Regions from separate parts of the Homo sapiens genome. Here region 2 is linked to region 1. The links come from fine-mapping of genetic effects on gene expression. Tissue or cell type: whole blood. Region 1 holds a variant in brackets; the other region holds the start of a gene. All regions are shown on one strand. Distances are from middle to middle.

Region 1 (12,330 bases):
ATACAAAATATAATTTGGAAAATGCTTATTCAGCGGGGCTATACAGGAAAATGACTCAGGAGACAACACAAAGGAGAAAACTTGGGCTTTGAAGTCAGGTTGGCTCAGGTTCTGATTCCAGTTTTCCCACCTAAAGTCTCATGGCTTGGCCAAGTCCATCTATTACCTAGGTGAACTTCATCCTCATCTGCAAGGTAAGTTTACCTTCCACAGGATGGAGTGAGAGAATCAAAGAACTGTATCCCATACTTTGAATAGGATACTGTCACACACACAATAAGCATCAATAACCGCTCATTTTATTTTAATAGCAAACTCATAAGGAATTAATTAAATTCATGGGTGGAACTGATCATGTTATTAAAGGAAACTAAAATATAGAGAGCTCAGGCTGGGCGCCGTGTCTCACGCCTGTAATCCCAGCCCTTTGGGAGGCTGAGGTAGGCAGATCACTTGAGCCCAGGAGTTTGAGACCAGCCTGGGCAACATGGTAAAACATCATCTTTACAAAAAATACAAAAATTACCCAGGTGTGGTGGCATGTGCCTATGGTCCCAGCTACTCCGGAGGCTGAGATGGGCAGAGCACTTGAGCCCAGGAGGTTTAGGCTTCAGTGAACTGAAACCATGCCACTGCACTCCAGTCTGGGTGACAGAGCAAGACCCTGTCTCAAAAATAAATAAAACAAAACAAAATAAAATAAAATAAAATAAAATAGAGTTCATGGTTAGATTATTTAAAGCTCCCTTCAGAGAATGCAACTTTCACCCTCAGTGACCTACCCTGGGCTCACCAGATGGCACTTCTTAGACTACCACTATTTAGCCTACTGTTTACAAAGCACTTTCATACACAATTTCCCTTTAGCACAAAAGGCTGTAAGATGGTTCAATCCAAGTAAGGTCTGCAGTTTAGCTAATAGTATTGTACCAATGTTAATTTCTTAGTTTTGATCAATATAGCAAAGCTATGTATTATTAAACGAGCTGAATAAAGGGTATAGGAGAACTCTCTGTCCTATATTTGCAATCCCTCCATAAATCAAAAATTATTTCTTCTAAAACTCAAGATGACTAAACTCAATTTATGTCTTTCGAATAAGTGTCTCTTTTGAATAATAAGTTAAGTATCCCTCTTCCATGTTTCTATAAAACCATTATTATTCCATTTAATATAAGGTATTTTATCTTTACACATGTTTGTTTCACTTAGGAGACAGAGGCTCCTGGAAGTTAGGGGCTTTATTCTTTTAATGCATCTTTTATCCTAATAACTAGCACAGTGCTCAATAATGTTGACTGAATGGAAGAACGAATGAGCAAAGTCAATCTGTGATTCAAACACTCCATATCAAGTGAGCTACTAGTTTAATGCACAGGATTTATGTAAAAACATATTGAATTTATCAGGGTTATCACTACCTTTATTACTCTATCATATTAGCCCATGATATGGTCTGTTCCTAGCCAAACACATTAGAACGCTCTATATTCTTCTTCTGGCATGCAGCTAGTATCTAGATCCTGCCTTATTCATGTAGATAACTGGCTTTATTCCCTTAGGAATTTGTCAGTACCCATTGATTCAACAAATATCATTGTGCATCAGTTACATTGCTCTCACTGTTTTAAGTACTGGACATATAGAATTGAGTATGAAAACCAAGATCCTTGTTCTCCTGGAGTTGACATTCTGGTTAGGGGGCAAGAGATAGAGACTTTATTAACCAATTAAATTTCTTTCACAAGCAATTTATTTGTAAAATAAATCCTTCCTCTTTACAATCTGAGAGCACAAAAAATTGTTAAAGTAGCTATATCCTTTCCACTTAAATTCCACATAACTCCTTTTCTATTTAAATTGAGGCTTTGAGAACTGATCACTAAATCAGTATATAACCAACTAATATTAATCAGTTGAACACTGCTCAATGGGTACTATGTCATTTAGAAAGTGTTTATTCCTAATAACAACTTATTTTCCTTACTAAAACACTTATTTATTAAAAATTACTAAGATATTATATTCTCAGTACTGCATTACACTATGTTACAATTTTACCACTTCAGAGCTACATATAAACAGTGCAATATGCTGATTAAAAGCCTGGGTCAGACAAACCCAATTTCAAGTCTTAGTCTCCCATATGCTAGTTGTTTGACCTTGGACAAATTATTTAAATTCTCTAAGCCTCATTTTACATTTTCTAAAATGTAAATGAAATAGAACCTATCTCATAGGGCTACTAAAATGATTAGATAAGATATTGCAATTAAAGCACATAGCAGTCAGTGTGTGTCACATTGCAAGCACTCAACAAATGTTGGTAGCTATTCTTCTTATATTATCACTTAGGTTCTCAGAAAATTTTAGCATTTTATGAAGCTCTCTAAATTAATACAAAGTTTTTAAATAACTGCCCACTTAGAGTTGAGACAAGTGGAAACAAATTCATTCCTGTAGCAGGCAGAATAATGGCTCCCAAAGATCCTAAATCCTGATCCCCAGAACCTGTGAATATGTTACCTTACACAGCAAAAGGGACTTCACAGATATGATTGAGACCTTGAGATTAAGGATACTAACATGGGGAAATTATGCTATATGGTCATTCCTCACTAACTGTGGGGGATTGGCTCCAGGATCCCCTGCAGATACCAAAATCCATAGATGTTCAAGTTGCTTACAGATGACCTCCTTATCAGCAGCTACAAAACTCATGCATAGGAAGGGCTGACTATATTATCCAGGTTCACCCAATCTAACGGTGTGAATCTTTAAAAGGAGATTATCTTCCCTTGGTGCAGTTAAAGAGGAATACTCAGAGATGTCATGTTGTTGGCTTGGAAGTAAGAGGAAGGGAAGCCCCTCTAGAAGCCGAAAAAGGCAAGAAAATGATTTCTCTCCTAGAGCCTCCTGCAGCCCTGCCAACACTTCAATTTTAGCCCAGTGACACTCCTCACAGAATTCTAACATTTAAAACTCTAAGATAATAAATTCATGAACTCATGTTGCTTTAAGCCTCAAAGTTTGTGGTAATTTGTTACAGGAGCAATAGAAAACTAATACAGTTCCCAAGGAGAAATCAATTGTGTTGATTTTCTAATATTAGCAACTGTGGAACTCATCTCATTAATTAATACACAGGACCTTAGTACATAAAAATAGATAAACCAGAGTGAGGTAAAAGAATTAGCTCACATGTCACTTCACCTCCATACCCTCCTATTCAAGGTTCAAGAAACAGCCCCATACCAAAGGGATCACAGAAGCTGAGGAATGGAGGTGGAAAACCATGAGGAATTCAGGAAATGAAGTTCAATCCCAGAGGCTGACCTCAACAGTTGTGACCCAGACAACCCTTCTTTCTCTCCAGCCTCAGTTTCTTGCGTGTAAAATGAAAAGTCAGATCACCTCCCAGTGCTGTTACGCTCTAAAGTGAGCCACGAAGATCTATTCTGGGTTTTTGTACATTGTGTTTCAGGAATCCACGAGCAGAGAGTTACCGACCTAATTTTTATATTTAAACATAATTTATGAATGCTTGCATCCCAGTGGCAATAGTATCCAAAAAAAAAAAAAAAAAAAAAAGACAGAAGAAAGAACTTCTACAAAATTTTCCAAAGCTTTCAAAAGTTTTGGGTTTCAGAGCCCAAACCCAAATATTGGTAGGAATGTGCTTAAATCTGACAGTTAAGGTAACAAAACAAAATAAATTATTTTTCTAGTGACTACTACTTAAGTAGCAGTATTTTTGTCTTTGCTGATAAAAATATCATCATTTAGGAATTTTAATAAACCTAAAAATTTAATAAACCTAAAAATTTAAGCAAAACCCTCACAACAAGCCTTTACAGATTAACATTACATTCAATTCTAAGTCAAGGTCTAATGAAATCCCTCACTTGGGAAGGACACACCATAGTTCTATGACATACTTCCTGTCTAAACTCTAGCTCTAAAGAAAGATATTTCTTGCATTACTTTGGTGTACCTCAAATATCTTACATATCCCAAGGGAAAACTATAGATCAGGTCCAAAAGTCTGCAGCAAATCTATTGAACAATTATCTATTTGCAATGGGGGAAATCATCCTGAAATAAGTTAAAAGCTATAGAGACATCACAATTAAGAACCTAGGTCAAACCAACCTTATGGTCATGAAGGCCATTCCTGAACAATTGTATTGTCAGCACTGTGGTGAAAAAAAAATCTATCAGCAATGCAGTGGACCTCTGTGATTTAACCATCAGACAGTACCTCTGAGAATTCAAACCCTTAAGAATTTTATCATGTTAGTGACAAAAAAAAAAAAGGAGGACAGAGAATGTCTGCAGTGGTTCTGCCAGCGTGTGTTAATGTAGTAAGTCAGACCTCAATAGACATATGATATCAGCACATGAACAATTTGAAGCAATAAAGGACTGGCTTTTTGTGATTAAAGAGACAACCTTAGTATTATAACACATGAAGATCTTATTTAAAAAGATCTGGCCGGGCACGGTGGCTCATGCCTGTGATCTCAGCACTTTGGAAGGCTGAGGCGGGTGGATCACGAGGTCAGGCATTCCAGACCAGCCTGGCCAACATACTGAAATCTTGTCTCTACTAAAAATACAAAAAATTATCCGGGCGTGGTGGCAGGTGCCTGTAATCCCAGCTACTCAGGAGGCTGAGGCTAGAGAATCGCTTGAACCTGGGAGGGAGAGGTTGCCGTGAGCTCAGATGGAGCCACTGCACTCCAGACCAGGCGACTGTGTGAGACTCCATCTCAAAAACAAACAAACAAGCAAACAAAAACCTCCATGAGCTAATAGGCCCATAGACCTGCCTTCCTTACTGCAAGTGGTGGCTGGTTTTCTTGCTTCCAGAACCACTTCATCTTCCTTTTATGTTAAACTATCTGGAAAAGCTGATGGCACAGATGAAGTTACAAAGACAGCTCCTCATTTTTGTAAGAAGTGCTATAATGATGGTACATAACAGTTTAAAAAAAAGAGAGAGATGGATAAAGAAGTTAATACTGATTTCTGCTAGAAGAAAATGTCCTCAAGAACCAAGGTCTCGAAAAACAAAAAAAAAAAGTGTTAAGGTTTAAGGGTACAACGATTTAACTAAGTTGTTGAGAATAAATGTTGTTAGAGCCATAACTATGCTAGTTTTTTATTAGGTTCATTGTTATTCTTGTTGGTGTTCAGTTTATAGTTTCGTAAGTTTTGAATTCTCTTCACCTAGCCCTACTTTTTCCAGAAGCCTCTTTATTTTGTGTGTCATTTTGCAAAATGAGTTTTGTTTTGTCTTGCTTTGTTTTTCCCAAAAAATGCAAGCATGGAGTTACAGCAGAAATGTCTGTGGCAGGACAGGGACCTGTCAGTGGTGTTGCAGACAACTTCCCCAGGCCAGAGGTTCCCAAACCTATAACTGTATACATAAGTCACTTGAGCAAGTTTACTAAAATGAATATGAAATATTCATGGAACCCATTGAAAGACTCTGATTCAGTAATTCAGAGAAAAGCCTAACAATATGCTCTTTTACATGGAATCAACCTAGGTGCCCATCAGTGGTGGACTGCATTGAGGAAATGTAGTATATACACACTGTGGAATATCATGTAGCCATAAAAAGGAATGAAACTGCATCCTGTGTAGCAACAGGGATGCAGCTGGAGGCCATTATCCTAAGCGAATTAATGCAGGAACAGAAAACCAAATACTCCATGCTCTCACTTATAAGTAGGAGCTAAACATCAAATACTCATAGACATAAAGATGGCAAAAACAGACACTGGGGACTACTAGAGCAGGGAGGGAAGGAGGGAACAGGAGTTGAAAAACCAACTATTGGGTACTATGCTCAGTATCTGGGTGATGGGATCATTCGTACCCTAAACCTCAGCACCACGCAATATCACTCATATGACAAACTTGCATACGTAGGTTGAATATAAAATATAAGTTGAAATTATTTTTTAAAATAATATAAATATAAATATAAAATATAAGTCGAAATTATTTTTTTAAAAAGAGAAAAATATAGGGAAAAAAGAATCTGCCTTTTAAACAAAAGCATCGCAGGCGATTCTCATACAGGTGGTTAGTATGGGCACAACTTTCTCATAAATATTACACTGTGCCAGGGGCAGCCCTCTCCAAAAGTTATATGGCATTTACAGAGTTAATGTCCACCCCATAAAGTCTTTCCAGTAAAAATGTTTTGTTTTGTTTTTTTAAGAAAAAATGTTTAAGATTTATTGCCCTGGGTAAATTATAGGGAATTGAGACTTAATTTCACTTCTGAAAAAATTCAGAATCTTGTAGAAAGAGACAAATGAAAATTATGGTTCAATTGGCATTGGGATAGTTATCTACAAGGCTCAAATTGTTAGCACTCATATTCAAAATAATAGCCAGGAGTCAATACAGGGTTTAAAAATTATTTTTTAAAAAACAAAAAAAGAAGAGAAAATGAGGGAAAGAGAATCAAATATTCCAAAAAGTTTCTCCTGAGCTAGACACCTCCTTCCATTTTTATGTGTCATGTGAGATGGACTATTCTCTAAGGGCTGAAAGTAATTTCATAATATTTAAACAACTGATTTAAAATAATTACATTATTTGAAAATTGCTAAGAGAGTAGATTTTAAATGTCCTCACCACAAACAAATGGTATGTGAGATGATGACACGTATGCTAAATAGCTTGCTTTAGCCATTCCACAGTGTATGCATATTTCAAAACATCACGTTGTATACCATAAATACATACAATTTTGTCAATTTAAAAATTAATTAAAAATAAATTTTAAAAAATAAAACACATATTAATCAGGAACACATTTATTTTGGAGAATTCCTATGAAGGTTGCTTGAAGATACTTTTTTCCTAAACTTTAGAGCTATGTAAGACAAAGAACCCATTTTAAATTTGTGCTTTCTATAAGACTAGCATATCTGGGTCCTCAGATTTAAATGACCAGATCTAAAAAATAACAGTTAAGAATTATAAAAGGTGTAAGAACTGCCATTCCCAGACCAAGTTTCACCCTTATTAGAACATTCAAGCCTTACATTGGTGTCACCATTTAATCTTTACAAGAATACTCTCTCAAAATTTCCTACTTTATACTTATTTTCTAGGTAACCATGAGCATTAAATGCCCACAGGGATATTATTATCTCCAGTGTAGATCTCTACTTTAAGATCCAGACTTTGTTAATGTTGCTTGTCTTAAAAAGTATAAATATCCATGCAGTTGAGCAGTCCTAAAATACAACTTTTCCTTTACTCATGCCCTATCTCCAGCCCACTACAAAGTTT[A/C]GTTAATTTTACTACCACCCACCCCCACTTTCCCATCCCCAACCCTTCCAGGAAGGGAACTTTTATAGTATTAGGCAATAAGCAGAGCCGATGAACTAGTAATTAGTCAACTATAAAGCAACCACAAAAGTAGGAAAGAAGAGAAAGAAGAAGTAGGCCAACCACAAGGCAATTGAACATGAAGTGAGCTAAAACATGCATCCTAGAAAAAGAGGAAGTAGCCAAGAATGACATATCATGAAGAATGGCAATGCCTATCATGAATGTCTATGCCAGAGGGGTATGTCCAACCAGTATGGACACTAAGACAAAGGTCAATTGTGAAACCTGGGGAAAAATCTGAAGCTGGAGTTAGAAGAAGAGGTATTCCTAGGGAGCAAGGAATGGGATTTATGATCTGCTGTTCAGCTTTATTCTATGTTTGGCTTTAGATTTGTCTAGGGTTTACTTCTGTTCCTGAGTCATCTGGAGTTCCCTGAAAGCAGAGAACTCCATGCTTTCAAGGTTGAAGCATAACTGATTCTCTCACAATCTGGCATTCTGAACAGGATTGAAGGTTCAGAAATTCTATGTACTAACATAGGAGAGTTAGGTGGCAAAGCTGTAGTGTAAACTCTATGAAACAAAGATTACACATTGTGTTAGGCCATTCTTGCATTGCTGTAAAAAATAACTGAGACTGGGTAATTTATCAAGAAAAGAGGTTTAACTGGCCCACAGTTCTACAGGCTTTACAAGAAGCCTGATGCTGGCATCTGCCAGGCTTCTGGTGAAGCCTCAGGGAGCTTTCAATCATGACGGAAGGCAAAGGAGTAGTGGGGGACATCACATGGTGAAAGCAGGAGCGAGCAAGCAAGAGAAAGAGAGAGAGACCACACACTTTAAAATGACCAGATCTTAGTCATTATCATGAGGACAGCACCAAGGAATGGTGCTAAACCATTCATGAGAAATCCACCCCCATGATCCAGTCACCTCCTACCAGACCCCACCCCCAATATTGGAGATTACAATTCAACATGAGATTTGGGTGGGGAAAAATATACAAACTATACCACACAGTGATCTGATCAAGCACTGAATTTGAGATTTCTTAGAATTATATATTTGGGTAAGTTTATTAAAAGCCTTTTGAAGACCTGATGAAATGAGAGAGGGAAATGAGGCCTGGAGAATGTAAAATTAGAGACATAATTACGGAATGTCTCACCCACTTGGAATTTGAATAATTGCATCTACCCAACCAGATTAGTAATGTATAAAATCTTCTATCCTGTTTAAATTTGAGAGGTTACAGCATTATGCTCCTAAGATCTTTAAAAGGTCATGCTGCTATAAAGACACACGCACATGTATGTTTATTGCAGCACTATTCACAATAGCAAAGACTTGGCACCAACCCAAATGTCCAACAATGATAGACTGGATTAAGAAAATGTGGCACATACACACCATGGAATACTATGCAGCCATAAAAAATGATGAGTTCATGTCCTTTGTAGGGACATGGATGAAGCTGGAAATCATCATTCTCAGCAAACTATCGCAAGGACAAAAAACCAAACACTGCATGTTCTCACTCATAGGTGGGAATTGAACAATGAGAACACATGGGCACAGGAAGGGGAATTTCACATACCGGGGACTGTTGTGGGGTGGGAGGAGCGGGGAGGGATAGCATTAGGAGATATACCTAATGCTAAATGACGAGTTAATGGGTGCAGCACACCAACACGGCACATGTATACATATGTAACAAACCTGCACATTGTGCACATGTACCCTAAAACTTAAAGTATAATAATAATAAAATAAAAAATAAAAATAAAAAGGCCTTTGATAAACTTACCCAAATACATAGTTCTAAGAAATCCTAACTCAGATTCCTAATGAAAAGACAGAACTGGCTGGAGAACATAAGCAACGCCAGGTAAAGAAAAATTGAATATTGCTACAGCAAATGGTAAGGATATATATTTTATGTCAGGATATTGGGATAATAGTATCTCTTCAAGGAATATTATAGAGCAGAGGTCAGCAAAATACGGCTCATAAGCCAAATCCTGCCTACCATCTGTTTTTGTAAATAAAGTTTTATTGGAGCACACTTGCATTCATTTGCTCATAAATTGTCTGTGGCTACTTTTGTGCTACAACTGCAGAGTTGGGTCTCTACAGAAATGTTTGCAGATCCCTGTTATCGAGTCAATAAGTCATCATGGAACATCTGTAGAATTTCATCTAGCAATAAGTATTGGCAGGTTTCATAAAGACAGACAGCAGAATGGGAATAATCCATGCAGGGTCTGCATTTTGAGGTCTATGAACAAACTGGATATACAGAGTAGAATATTCAGAATGTTATCTGAGAATGCTAAGGGAACTAGAACCCCATTCAGATAAGGAGAAGAAGCTAAGATATACTTACGATAAATGTTGCCATTACTCGGTTCAGGCAAAACATTGTTTGCAAGTGGGGATAGGATATACAGATTAGGAAAAATGGTGGCGAAATTAACCTCAAAGTCAGAAAATAAATATGTCGCAAATTTGTAGATTAATATATTATTTGATATTTATTTATTTGGTGTGTATAATTTTATTTGATGATGATTTCCTTCTTTGAAAAAATGAGATGACAGATTCACCCAAACTGTGACTTTGTAGAAACCCTTGGGTGAGGACAGTTATCAGACAGAGGAAATGAGGCCTGTAGAATGTAAAATTAGAGACATAATTATGGAATGTCTCAACCACTTGGAATCTGAATAATTGCATCTACCCAACAGAGGAAAATGCCTCTGTTGCTGTATTAGTAACATAAAATATTCTATCCTGTTTAAATTTGAGAGGTTATGGCATTATGGTCTTTATAACTATCAATGATTTTTAGCTACTGTATAATAAAGAAAGCTGAAATAAGATGTAATTGAAAGTTAGGATAGTACATTGCAGTTAAGACGACACTATGCTAGGATTAGAACTGTGACGGGATTATTATTCTTAGAGGAATGAAGTTTTGGCTTAATAAATCAAATGTGTATAGTAACAATAGAAGAAATTTTAAATGATATCTTAGAAAATTAATCCTGTACCTCACTTATGATATATTGATAACATTCTGTGCAATTTATTCCTATGAGGGCTCTAAGATCATTCACATTGCTTATAAAATTGTGCTGAGTTTTTCTGTGGGAATTAGCAGAAAGAAGCTAAGTATATAAATTTCAAAAATTAAGACATGGAGGAAAATAGATTTTGGAAAGACTTCAGGAGTGTGCCACTTATGTCGTAAGCATTTCTAAAATGTGTTGCAATTGTTTCTTTGAAAACAGGAAATGAGAATAATAAAAGTGGATGAGAAAAAAACACTTGTGGTAAAAAGTCAGAAGACAGGCAGATTTTAAAATGTGGGCAACTTAGGAATATAGAGAAGATAGGACATAAAAGTGAACATAAAAGGACAAAAAGCTAGCAATAAACTGTGTATAAAAATTACATGGGGTTTGGAATCAGTTTACGGATTGAGTTCCAGCTCAGTCTCTGACTATTTTTATGGCCATGTGTGTATATTTGTAACTTAAAATGAGCATATATGGTCACTGCCTGTATGTAATTATTTACTGAGTTGTCTTACCATGGGAATTTTTCTACCTATTCCTTTTGAGTAACTTTGAAAATTCTGCTTCTGTTGTACCTTAATTGCAAGTCACTCAATTTACTCCTATTGGTAGTAACAAGAAAAAGATGAAACAGAGTTTTGAAATAGACATGAAGCAAAAGTAATGGCAAGAGGAATGGAGGTGTTTGCAAATAAAGCTTGAAGAAAGATGTGAGTAAAAGGAAACCTAGGCCTTGAAAAAAACAAAACAAAACAAAAAACTAGCTTCTGCTGGCTGATACGAAGGCAAAAGAATCTAAAATTCGTACATGAAGGCTGAGCTGGGGAGGTGGGAAGAGACAGGACCCAAGCAGGAAGAAGACACAAGTCAAAATCCTGAAGCTAAAACCTGAACGTCAACACCTCCTCATGGGTGCTGTAAAACCACGATGGCATTGACTATTTGACTATAGGCCCAGACCTTTGATAAGAAAATGCTGTTGAAAATCTCCTTGTATGCACATTATTTATAAAAGAACAAGTGAATTTACAAGCATCCCAAGCTGCAAAGGAACTAAGATCCTAAAACATTTCTGGTGAGTAAGGAATGCTAAGCAGAAATTAGTAATAGGGCCCGGCATCCATTATTACTAGTTTCAAATGTAGATGTCATGTCATTGCTGTATCTTTAATTTGGAGCACTGTCTTTATTGTTTTATGTTACTGGCTATAAAAATATTTATGAAGACTATAACAAGTTCACTCCTAACTTCAATCCTCTTAACCCACCTTTCCCACCATAGGCTTTTCTAGGACCTAACCAGGCGCAGTTCATGTGGACATCTATATACATGTTGCCCATATATTCACACATAAACTATGCTCTTCTTTCATACATAATATGGAATAAGGAAGGCACTTTTTAGAAATTTGGCTCAGATTAACTTTCTGGGCATGACAAACTCAGTGCAAATTCATATCATTCACCTACACTCCTGTCTGTTACCAATACCCTATAATCATAATTCATATTAACATAATTATCTTAGTATTGATTACCTAAAATATCCATAATCATCAATAATTTGTATCAATACAAAATAATGTATGTGACACTTTATCTTAAAGAAAGGGTCCTTTCAAAACAAGAGTTGATAACAAGGACTTTCAGAAATTAGGACTTTCTGAAGCTGGGAAATACACTGAATGTATGTATTTACATACATTTGAAAATATTCTGATTTTTATTCATCTTAACAAGCTTAATGATAGAGTGGAGCAAACCACTTATTTAGAAATACCATTTAAATTTTTTCTGATGAACTTGATGAAGTTCAAGTAGTGGACAACACCAAAAAAAATATTTAAAAGCAGGCCCTTTCTTTTCTGAAGTTTTTATATATAAGTCA
Region 2 (12,330 bases), 29 kb after region 1:
TTAACTTGTTACTTGGAGAATGCTAACAGAACATTGATTTGGTAAGAATCTATCACACTTCCAGAACTTTAAACACTACCTATAGCCATTCTAGGAAGGCTGAGGAGGAAATAAAAAACTAGAAATGTGAATTTAATATATTCCTTATTTTGTTTATATTTAGAAACACCTGCACTCAATTCTATGAACATTGCTGGCAATATACTGTTATGCTTGATAAAAAGATAGTGAGGGGCAGGTTGGTGCACACTTTTGTTTTTCAATTGCTGCAATTTATACGAGTCCCAAAAGAGAAGATTATGTATTCTATACAATAAAGTGAGGTTTAAGCATCAACTCTTAAGTGTTGCCAGAAAAAAGAGTCATGTTTCAAAATCTTCTCATAGCTTGAAACCTCAACATTTTTCTGCCAGAGATAAAATTATGTTGCACCTCACTCTACTTTCAATATTTAGATTGAGTTCAGTACTGTTTTCATAATGTATATATGCAGTTATGGAATTTGACACTCTTATCCACTTTTCTCTAGTTTTACAGGTAGTACATATTAATATTTATAACCACTGTAATCTGAGGTCAGCTTTGGATATTTTTTACCATAAAAGGTAAATTTTGGAAATTATATCAAATATCTTTGCAAAGACACAGATAATTCATTTCTTAAGTAGTTTTATAAAGACAGCTAATATTACTGGGCACTTATTACATGTTGGTTGATGTTCAGAGTGCTTTTCATGGATTATTTCCTTTAAGCTTCATGAAACCCTCATGATAATAATAATAGTATTATTATCCCCATATTGCAGAAAAAGGAAATTTAGGCACAGAAAGATTAAGTAACTTTCCCATGACTACATATTTAAGGAACAGCCTAATTAGGATTTAAACCCAGGCAATCTGGCTGAAGAGCTAAGGACTAGGCCATCTGGCATCTTGCTGCCTAATAGCAAGGAATTTTCTTATTTTCGAAAGGACGGATGACAAAATACACAATATACATCTGTTTTACTGCCTGGAACATGGTAAGAATTCAATAAATAGCAGGTCCCTCATTAATAAACATAAAAGTGTCCAGCACAGTGCCTGGCATGTAGTAGGTATTCAGTGTTCATGTTTGTCTAATATTTTTTGGTTCTCTATATATATTTTTTCTCCTCTTTTTCATTAGTGTTATCTGACCATTTCATGGGTATGAGAAGTATTCATGTCTGAATATACAACTTTCTTCCGCTCTTCCTGCTATTTTAATTCTGCAAAATAAGTCCTATTTCATTCTGTGAATAATCTTTAATGTTTTTAATAATTACATAGGCTAGGTGGTTACAAGTAACCAGGTTGAAACAGATCACTGGACATTCCTCTTGTTCTGTAAACACAGGCTGCCCCGTTAGGGTCAGGGTACTTTATACGCAAGAATGTTTACAAGCACTTCAGCCTGCAGAGCCACTTAGTGAGGGAAACAGGTGGGTGATGTCATTGGGGAAACACACAGCCTGCTTCTACCTATTTGGGATACTAGGTTTCTCAATGTTTCCATCACCCAGACTCACAAATGCCCCTCCTACCAGGAGTGAAGGGAGACAGGATAGTTCTAGAATCTGGCTAGGCATGATAGTGAATTTTTCCCAGGTTATTTAAGAGGAAAAAGAAAAAAGACAGAATTCCGTGCAGAGGTGCAGAGTAAGAACAACATATCGACAGAGAATCACAAAGGAAGCTTAGAGTCAAATACCAATTGGCCAAAAATTAAAAAAAAAAAAAAAAAAAGCGGCCAAGCGCCGTGGCTCATGCCCGTAATCCCAGCACTTTGGGAGGCCGAGGCATGTGGATTGCGAGGTCAAGAGATCGACACCATCCTGGCCAACATGGTGAAACCCTGTCTCTACTAAAAATACAAAAATTAGCTGGGCATGGTGGCGCACACCTGTAGTCCCAGCTACTCAAAAGTCTGAGGCAGGGGAATCACTTGAACCCAGGAGGCAGAGGTTGCAGTGAGCCGAGATTGCACCCACTGCACTCCAGCCTGGCGACAGAGCGAGACTCCGTCAAAAAAAAAAAAAAAAAAAAGCTCTGGTTTTGTAATTCAGGCTTCAAGAGAAAAAGTCTGTTGAGCTGAATCAGTATGAAGAGGCTGGATATGGGAGGTCCAGCACCAAGGAGACCCAGGCTGTTACAGGGCTCTTGGTACGTGGATCAGTGATACAGCACCCAAGACTATTCTTAGCTTGCTTATTTTGAGCAAAGAAAAGGAATCAATGACTCCAAGGGCTTGGGACCTATTAGAGCTATTATTATGGAATAGATAATTGTGTTGAACATCTGCAGCCCCAATAGTGTGCAATTCAACATTTAGTTAATTGTATAAAAGTGCAGATGCTCTGAAATAGCCATGTATGTATCGCATATCAGTCACTCATGCCATATGAAAGTTAAAGAAGCCTTTTCCCCCTGAAAATTTCCCTCCAACAGATGTGTTTATGCCTATGCGTACAATATAGCACACAGCGGGGCTGAGTGGCTGAGATCCCACCCCATTATCTCTCCCCTGACTGTCATGAGGCAATGTTAAAACAGCTGAAGAGAGGCTTGGCTATTGCATACATATCATCAAGGACAGACAGTTGCAGTGGCTGTTTTAAGAAAGGAGTGAAACTTGGAACTGACAGGCACTAAGATGGGAGCAATACAAGAGAAACTTGTCCTCCTAAGTCCTAATTTGGGCTGGCACGGCAAGTGTGAATACTAGAGTTATGGCATCTATAGGTCGTTCCTTTGGGAATGCCTGAAACCTAGAGTGTGGGTTTTTCTCACAAACCATTATAGTCATCAGGTATGAATTCTCCTAAGACAAGGAAAACTACACTGGCACTTACCATTATAAGGAAAATGACAAAGAAGGAAAGAAACACTGATTCTGAAGCATTGTATTTAATGCCATGTGCTTCTATATAAAGCTGGTTTCAAGTTGTTGACCATTCTTTCTGAATCAAATAAAGAATACATATTCTTATCTGGTTTAAAAAGCACAAGATGCTTCGAAGGGGGTAAAAAGTCCCTCCCCAAAAAAGATTATAATCTGGTGGAAAACAGAGACAAATATACTAAAAACTAACCTACAGCCAAATTCACCCCAATTTTTCAGGGAAGACAGTTAAGCAAATGTCACTTAAAGATACTGACTTAGCTGGTTTACAGGGAATCACTGCTGTACCACTGGAAAGCAGATGAGAGCCACCAAGGAAGCTCTGGTGCTCTGTGTCAAGAGAGCGTAGCTAATCACAAGACAGCTGCCTACCTAGTAGATGAGATCTGGAGGGCACAGAAATGCCTGCCCCTCCCCCACTGAACTTGTCAAGTTGCTGTGTTACGGTACTGCTGCTGGGAGCCCTTGACAAAATGCACACCTATTACCTGAACAGGATGCTACTTCAGACCGCTGGCCCCTTCTTAATTCATTAGACCATCTACAGAGGACCACAGAAACTTCTTCTGAAGCCAATGAGCAGGGAGACAGGAGAACACAACCACAAACAGTGATAAGAGCCCCCAAAATAACTCTTTACAACGATTTGAGCTAGGTCTGAAATCTCCGTAATGTACTATGATGACCTTAGAAAGGACAGTAGACAAAGTCACGCAGGGAGGTAACTAATCCAGCTCCCCAATTTCCTATCTTGTTGAATAAAGTGCTATGGTCTCTCCCCAAAATATAGGGTAAAAATAAGGGAAAATTCAATACACCCTCATGAGGGGCAATGATCAGTAATTGAAGTGAATATGATCAGCAGGATCTTATTAAAGAAGCAAGCACAAGAATGGCCAGTGGTGAAACAATTACTCTCTGTTCAATTTCTGTTTTGCTCAAAACTCTGCTGAAGGTCTCTGCCAATAACCCAGGTTCTGAAATGCTATCAGTGATACCAGTAAGAAGACCAAGCAAATGTGGTTTGTTTTCTTCCAGCAAGGGACAAATACTTCTACAGTATTACTGTAGCCACAGTATTATCAAGTACTAGTGAATTAATTCTGCAGAAGTGCTTCATGAAATGTGTGTTGGGGGTACGCTCGAAGCGACTTAAGGCATCTGGATCAATTAATAATTGGGAATTGCAGAGGCAAAAAATAAATTCTCCCCCATCTCCTTCCTCCCCTCTTTTATCAGCTACCTACCAATCACTCATAAACAAGTATTTATTCGACATGCCTCTTTTGTCCAAGGTAATGTCCAAAGCATCAGCGCTTCCTAGGGACATCTAAGGTAAAGCTTTTGTTCATGCTCGTGTTCTGATGATGAAATACAAGATTTGTTTCTAGAAAGCTTCAATTGCCATTTTATTATATAGATAACCAGCAAACAATTGGGTTCAAAAATTCAGATAAACGGTTGTTTTCTTACATCTCTTGGGAAAGTAAATTATCCATATTTATCACAGAGGTCTTGAAAAATAGAACTGTTAAGCCAAAAGTTTGTAGAACTTGTTTGGGGCAGAGCTGATTCCTGACACTGGACTAGATTTCATCTGCTTCGCTGACCTTTAGGAATCCCTGCCGCTGCTCTTGAGTCTCCGTAGCACAGGACTGAATCAAGATGAACCGGCGCGCACTCTACATCGCTTGCCCTGTGCCCCAAAACGCCGAAGCTAACTTCCCACGCGGCCTCTTGCTCGACCACCCACTTCTGCGCTGCCAGGCACACCGAGGGGACCGGCTCTCCCTCCAGGCGGCCCATTCCAGCGTTTCCCGCTAGAGGGCACACGGCCCCCGTGCAAAGCGCTTATGGCGCGGGGCACGCGCGCACGCAGCCTCGACTCCTATAGCCCAGGTCCCACTCCCGGGCTGGGCTCAGCCGCTAAGGCGCTGGGGAGGGGCCGTGCCAGGGAGCGAAGCGCTCCCGGGACTCTGGGAGGGTGCGGCCGGGACTGCTGTCCCTTGCCCTGAGCTCTGGGCGTAGGCGCCCGGTAGGACTCGGCGCCCAGGTGAGCGGCGGCCCCCAGGAGGGGAAGCACCGCGCGACTCAACGGGCGCTCAGAGCGCAGGGCGAAGAGGACGGGCGAGGGAGAGGGGGAGGGAGAGGCCACGGCATCCGAGGAGGAGGAGGAGTAGGAGGAGCAGGAGGAGGATCGTGGGGCCCGGGCCGCGCTGCGCACCCACCTGGGCTCTGGCTGCCCGCCGCGGACTCCGGCTTCTTGCCGGAGCCTCGCTCCTTCTTCTTGCCCTTCCCTTTGCCTCTGCCTTCTTTGCGCTCGGACATCTCGCCGGAGACGGAGCGCTCTACGCGGACGGCTCTCGGCGCAGGCGAGTTTGGTCCAAGGGCTCGGATCGGGTTTGGGAAAAGTTTGTCCCTCGAGGGGGAGAGCGAGCGGCCGCGCTGAGGCGCTCGCGCTGCGCGGGGGCGTCTCCCGTTGCCTGCAGGGAGCGCGGCGCGGACGCGGCGGGCGGTCCGGCCACCTGGAACGGGCGCTCGCCCTGGCTCTCGGGGCTGCTCCTGTCGCCCCGGGAAGTCGTCGATGGGTCCCACCGCTGGCGGCTCGCGTCCTGGCCTCTGCCCGGCGCCCTCGCAACCCGATCGGGGAGAGGTTATCACCGTCCTGCTCACGCTCCCATCGTCCGGCAGCCGCCGCCGCTCAGCTCCTGGCCTCCGCGCGAGCCCGGAGTTCCAACAAGTTTCGGGGAACTCCTCGCCGGCTCTTTTTCAATTGCCCCGCAGCCACCCACCTCCCGCCCGCAGGTTGGAGGCAGGCGCCTCCTTCGCACCCTCCCCTGGCCTCGCCCCCTCCCTCTTCCCCACCACACCCCCACCCCGAGGCGCGGACACGCCACCGGGAGGAGCCTGGGCTCGGCGCTCCCGGGCGCAGCCCCTTTTCCTCCCGCGCTGGCCGGGCGGGGGGTGGCGGCGCGGCTGCCGGGAACCCCCGACAGGGGTCGCTGGACGCTGCGCGGAGACCGAGGCCAGCGCCCCGGAGACCCGGGAACCCAGGCGGAGACCCGAGGCTCTCGCTGCCCGCTCCCCTCCGCAGCCAGGCAGCGCCTGGGAGGGCTGCTCCGTCCCATTCCACGCGGAAAAGGACGGCGCAGAGAAAAGTTTGCGACTCCCACACCTGTGCCCCAAGCAGAGTCTCCGTGGTCAGGAACCCTGGGAGGGGTGCGGGGGGAACGTTGGTGGCTTTCCCAGAAGAGTTCGGGGTTCATTCCTTAACTCACTTAAGTACAAAAGCCCTGTCGCACGCAGGCGAAAATAAACTCTAGGTGGAAGGGAGTTTAAGATAAGGCTTCCTTCCAGGTGCACAGGAAGGGCTAAGCGAACCTTAAAGATGCTAGGTTGCGCTCTCCTGCTGGGTCTGCGCCGTGTGCGTGTGTGTGTGTGTGTGTGTGTGTGTGTGTGTGTGTTTAGTAAGTGCCTGTTAGAAATCTTCAGCTTTTCCTTAAAAAATAACCTGGCCTCTTCTAAGGGGGTGCCCTTAAACTACGTCTCTTACTACAACTTAATTTTCAGAGGAACTGATAAAAAACATAGTTCGGAGCACGACTCAGAATAATTAAAATTACTGCAGCCGCTGAAAGTCACTCAGTTCTGCCGAGTGGAAAAGCAGGCAGGGAGGGGTAGAATAAAGACACAGAACTGGAGATCCTTAATTCGTGAATGTGGGGTTTCTCAGATTCAAACTTTACTCAGAACTGCGCGTGAAACCTACTCCTTCCCTTGTCCTCCCTCTGGTGGAGAATTCTAAAGAGCAAGGAAATAAGAAGGCATTGACCCCTCCCCTGCAAAGGACAAAAGTTAAAGACCAGGGTAACGGGCACCACGGAAGGATCCAGAATTGTCTACATGTAGAGAAAACATTCTCAGAGTTATACCACAGCTGTGGTTAACTTAGACTCTTAATTTACAGTGAAATACTCTTGTGTTGTGGTCGGGAAGTGGTGAGTTGGAACAATCCATATTCAAAATCTATTGCTTCACTTTAAAAGTGACTTGCTCTTGGTTTTCCATTTTCTGGGGTCAATGCTAACTGAACCATTACCTACACACTACCTTCTCACGGTATTTTCTGATGGCCGCAATTTAAATAAAAGTGCAGTCTGGAGTGTCTCCTTGATATGTAGATGGGAAGGGAGGGAGGGAAATATGTTCACTTTAAAACTGTCCTAAAATCACACTAATTTTATTCTAGTTTAATTTGCACTGTCATAAGAACGAAACTCTGTTGAATGGGTTTAACTGTGGAAAGATATCCTAGCAGTCTTGCCATCATTATTTATAGTTTAAAAGTTTGATGTCCAAGTAGCTTCTGATAGCCTTCCTACAAACACCAAATATAAATTTCACTGGGCTATAAAGACAGCAAAAGCAGAGAAAAGATGATGAATATATCTCAGTAGCACTATTAATATTCCACAGAGACGTATGCAAGATGGAGTCTGAACACTGGCTGAAATAACTCTGTTTTCCCAGGAGGGGGCCACTGCTCAGTAAGCAGGAAATAGCAAAATTCAGAGAAGTCCTTTCAAAACAGATATTTTGTCCCAAGGATGTGAGACAGCATAAGGGCTTAGTATACACTACCACATATTCTCTAACATGGCATTATGTTAGAATTGAAGGACTGAAAGCAAAGATGTATTCTGGGATTCTTTTTTAAAAAATAAGATTTTCCCCAATTAAAAAAAAGAAGCTCAAAATCCATTTCTATGGAAATGTTGTAATTCTGCTACTTTTGTTTAGGGTCTGGATGTTTTGCTTCAACAAAACAGCTTACTGGTCATTTTTAGAGTAATTTTTCAGTGAGATAGGGGAAGAGCCTACGATTTTGTGATACATTTTCATTTGAATGAACCTGAAGAGGTAGTTGACAGTCTTCCAAAATTAAGCATACATGACTACAAAAGAGATTACAGATACTATGGTGGCTTTAAGATAAAACGTAAAAGCAGGATTCCTACAGGAATTTTAGGGCTGAGGAATGAATGAATATGAAGGGAGGGAGGTGAGTATAAATGAGCATTTAATAATTGTTTTTCCTTGGTTTGATGTGATGGAGGGGAAAAGACAGGACAAAAATTGCAATGATAAATATTGAAGGGACTTTAAGGAAAGATGATGAAATGGCAATTGCATGACAACAATCCTTTCTGGAACCATATCCAGATTCTCGAGTTACATTTTAGTTATCACTTGTAGCTGAATTCTCAGGAAATTCAAGGCTCAGTCCAAAAAGGTTTTTTTCTAAAAATCGTTAGGTCTTTATGTTATTTAATGTTAATTTTAAGGGGTTTTATTACATTATTTATGGCCAGCTAAAAGATTAACCAAATAAATGTCCATTTCTTGGACAGTTAAAACATTTATGAGATTTATCAAGAATTTGATATTGTCCTTAAATTATTCATCTCTGTGGTCAGGAGTAGCAAATGAATTTCTTTTGCATTTGTAAAAAACCTTGGAACTGACCAGAACAAGGGATGGAGAAAAGAGGAAGAATATTTTTGCTTTAAAAAAAAAACCCAATTGTATAATTTAGAAATGATGACATATCTTAATGGTTTAATTTTATTAATTTGTGTATTGTTCAGGTCTTAGATCATGTATTATATAGGGTATATCAGCTCCCAGGTAAATTGTCAACATAACTCCTGATAAAAAGAGTACAGATTTTAAAAAATAAACACCTTGGGCATTAAAGAAATGCAAAATTTAGATCTCACATTAAATGACAGCGTAAGAGAAACGCAATCGTGTGCCACTACATTTTTCCTTGGCTAGACTTAACTTTTAGAAGGACTCTTAGAATCTACAAAGCTGGCTGAATATATCCTCTCAGTAAATCCCATTTGGGAAATACTCCAAGAAAAGTTTTAAAACATGGAAAAATTAAAGAAGACTAACAAGACAAATTGCATTTTTGGCAAAATATTATGCATGTTGACAGTAATGGGACTTTAGAATTCTGCAAATAGTCACTTTTAACTTTTTTAAATCAAGTAACTTAAGATAATGTAAACAAAGATTACTTTTTTAAAAACTGCAACAAAGTTGACATTAATGAAGATGCATGAATGCAAAGAAAATCTCACTCAGCAGAGTCAACTTCAAAACAACCACTAAATGTATATGATTCATTCATTCACCAAGCATTTACTGAACTAAGTGATAGACAGGCCGGGCATGGTGGCTCATGCCTGTAATTCTTACACTTTCAGAGGCTGAGATGAGTGGATTGCTTGAGCCCAGGAGTTCAAGACCAGCCTGGGCAACATGAGGAAATCCTGTCTCTACAAAAAAAAAAAAAAAAAAAAAAAAGATACAAAAATTAGCCAGGTGTAGTGGTGCTCCCCTGTAGTCCCAGCTACTGGGAGGTTGAGGTGGGAGGATCACCTGAGCCCTGGGAGGTTGAGGCTGCAGTAAGCCATAAATGTGCCACTGCACTCCAGCCTGGGTGACAGTGAGACCCTGTCTCATAACAATAAATAAATAAATAAATAAATAAATAAATAAATAAATAAATAATAAGCTAGGCAGTAGAGAAACAAATAAAATACTGTCTCTGATCTCATGAACCTAAAATATTGTGAGAAAGGCATAAAAACAAATTAAATATGACAATACAATATGAAAAACAAGGCCAGATGAGTTTTCTGGAAATGAAGCTCATAAAATTTGGGGGATCTTTTAAAAGAAAAATACTGCAAAATTAAACTTACAAATTTAGGTAATAAGAAATTAAATAGGCTCTTGCAAGTCAGAGTCCCTGAAGAGTAAGCTTCCTTAGCTTATGGTAAATTCACTTTTAGTGATTCCAAGCATATTCCAACATCTGCACCATAATTACAGCAATGGTACTTGACAATTGTATACTATTTTGGAGATTAAATAATACTGTTACATAATATCACTATAAATAGGAGACATTAACAAGCAATCAAAAGGAATACACACAAAACTGAGATAAGCAAAGACCATCCTATGAGGGAGGAAATTGAGGTGAAAGGAGGCTTAATAATTCACAGATTTGCGATTGTCCTGTGTGTTCAGTTAGACTCTTAGCATCAACATGCATGTTGAGTTTATTAGGCAAAGCACTTCTGACCAGCAAGACACTCTGGCAAAACTAGAAGTGGTACCCTCCATTTGGCAAATATTTAATAGAATTACTAATTAGTCATTGTCTGCTGTAAAGACAGTTTTATGATAAAATTATGAGCTTAGAATTCAAAGAAAAATGCTAAAAGGCAATGTTCAAACAACATTAAAATCAAATCTATGTTTATGTTTTTCTGCTTGTGTGACTTTTAAAAATTACTACATACTAATGATTACTATTATTTATCATTACTATTAATAAGATTACTGTCAGGATTGTAGTGTCATGACTGATATCATGGATTAAAATTGTTAATACTGCTAAATACTATTGCTGAATTTCTTCTTCTGGCCCTGATAAACAGGGCCAACGTCATACATTTCTTCTGTAATAAGGCAGATATATAAGACAATCATTTTTGAAAACATTTGAATTTCTTATAAGAAGAATACCATCCCACACAACTTTTCAGTTATTTTTTCTGACCTCTGCATTATTTATCCTCCTCAGTCCCCTGGCAATGCACCCTTAATTTAGATGTGTATATGATGCAAATATATATATACTTATATATGCATATGTGTACATACATATATACATATGTAGACATACATGTGTATACATCTGTTTATTTGTGTGTCAATATATATGTATCTGGGTATATAATTTCTCATTCCCTTTACTGGAAATGGAAAGCATTGTCTGTATTTGAATATAAGCCTATAAAAGGCAGAGATTATATAACCTTGTATCCATTTATTTTATATTTCTATCCATTAGAATTCCTAACTGTACTTTGCATCTGGTAAGCACTAAATACTTTGGATAGAATGAACCTAAATAGAACAGAATGAAGATAAAAAGCCTAGTTCAGTGATTACCATTTTCTATCAATCAATGACTAATTACCTACTGTGACAATCATTTTGACACCTTCTTTCTGTGGCCCACCCATCCCCAAGTCCTGTCATTTTGACTTCAGTCTTCTTTTATGCCTCTTCACTAAGTACCACCCCAATCCAAGTCTTCATCCTTTTTTGTTTTGACTGTAATAAAGCTTTCCACCTGGACTATTGCTTCACCCAATTATCTTGCCACATACTGTAGTCAGAAGAGTCTTTTTGAAATGCAAATTTAATCCAGTCACTTTTTGCTTCCCAGGAGTCTATCCAGTGCCCTTGAAGAAGGAGGCTGTGGGTCACCCCAGCCTTATCTCCCTTTGCTTCCTGCACAAAGGCCTCCTTGCACCATGCCTGCATAGCTTGCATCCTTTGCAGCCTTAGAGCCTTTGCACTAGCTATATCCTCTGCCTGAATTTTCCCACAACCACCACACTTTGCCTAATTCCACTTAACATTCAGGCTTCAAGGGAAATTCAGTTGCTTGGAAAAGCTTTTCCTTACCTTTGTACACTGTTTCATCCCATCCTGTTTTAACCTCTCTTTACACTTTTTGGTGAATGAATAAATATTACTTTCATATGTAAGACTATACATACAGAAGTGTGTGTGTACTTAGGTTTATTCAGTCAAATTTTTGATGATGATGATGATGGTACTGGGCATGACACCTTGATATAACTTCTGTTAAAATAAGCCTTTCCATGAACAAATATGTAAAATAAAAATCTGGACTAATCAGTATAATCTCTCAATACCTTCTCTAAAAGGTGAGGTTATAAAATGATAAAATGCGAAGAAGCATAATTACTTTTTTTTCCTGAATTTGCTCTGCAAATTTCACCTGTAGATTACATTCATTGGCTTCATTTCCTCCCTTGGATTCTTGTGAGGTGTCAGAGGAGCCTATAAAATAGTTGGGTTTTAGCAAAGATACTCTAACAAAGTGATAATGGATGAAAACCTGCAAACACTGCATTGTTAGAGGGGAATTAAAAACTTCTTGTCCTAGGCATAATGTAGGTAAGCTTCCTCTCGTCATTAAGATTATTTTTCACTTCACAGATTAGTGATAAATCCCCATAGAGTCATTTCATCAAGTGACACCCAGTAAACACCTTAGAACTATCTTTGAGTTTCGATTTAATCTCTCTAATATTTTACTATATTCCCATCATCCATATTCATACAGCAAATGCCAAGGCATTTCTCCATACATACTTGGCGGTCATTTTCTGTGAATATTTATTATACAGCCAAGAGAGAGATTCAGATGCTTTGATGGCTTTTAAGAGTGATCCCACAAGAACCTCTTCAACGTTCCTATCTTCTTTCCTTTCAAAAGGCACTTT

Evidence for each region.
Region 2: NRG1 starts here. The variant in region 1 is fine-mapped to the expression of NRG1 in whole blood (INTERVAL, PIP above 0.99). The same link has a PIP of 0.9 or more in blood mononuclear cells and monocytes.

Annotation. Positions count from the first base shown.
Region 1 is chr8:32,570,457-32,582,786 of GRCh38, reverse strand. All of the region lies in intron 1 of NRG1 (neuregulin 1), which reads right to left. Among named protein-coding and RNA genes, the nearest start is that of NRG1, 28 kb to the right of the region's middle. The variant A/C (reference allele first, on the strand shown) is at 7,321.
Region 2 is chr8:32,541,648-32,553,977 of GRCh38, reverse strand. It overlaps NRG1 (neuregulin 1), which reads right to left and starts at 5,667. Exons shown (of 12, transcript NM_013964.5): 1 at 5,152-5,667. The coding sequence starts at 5,251.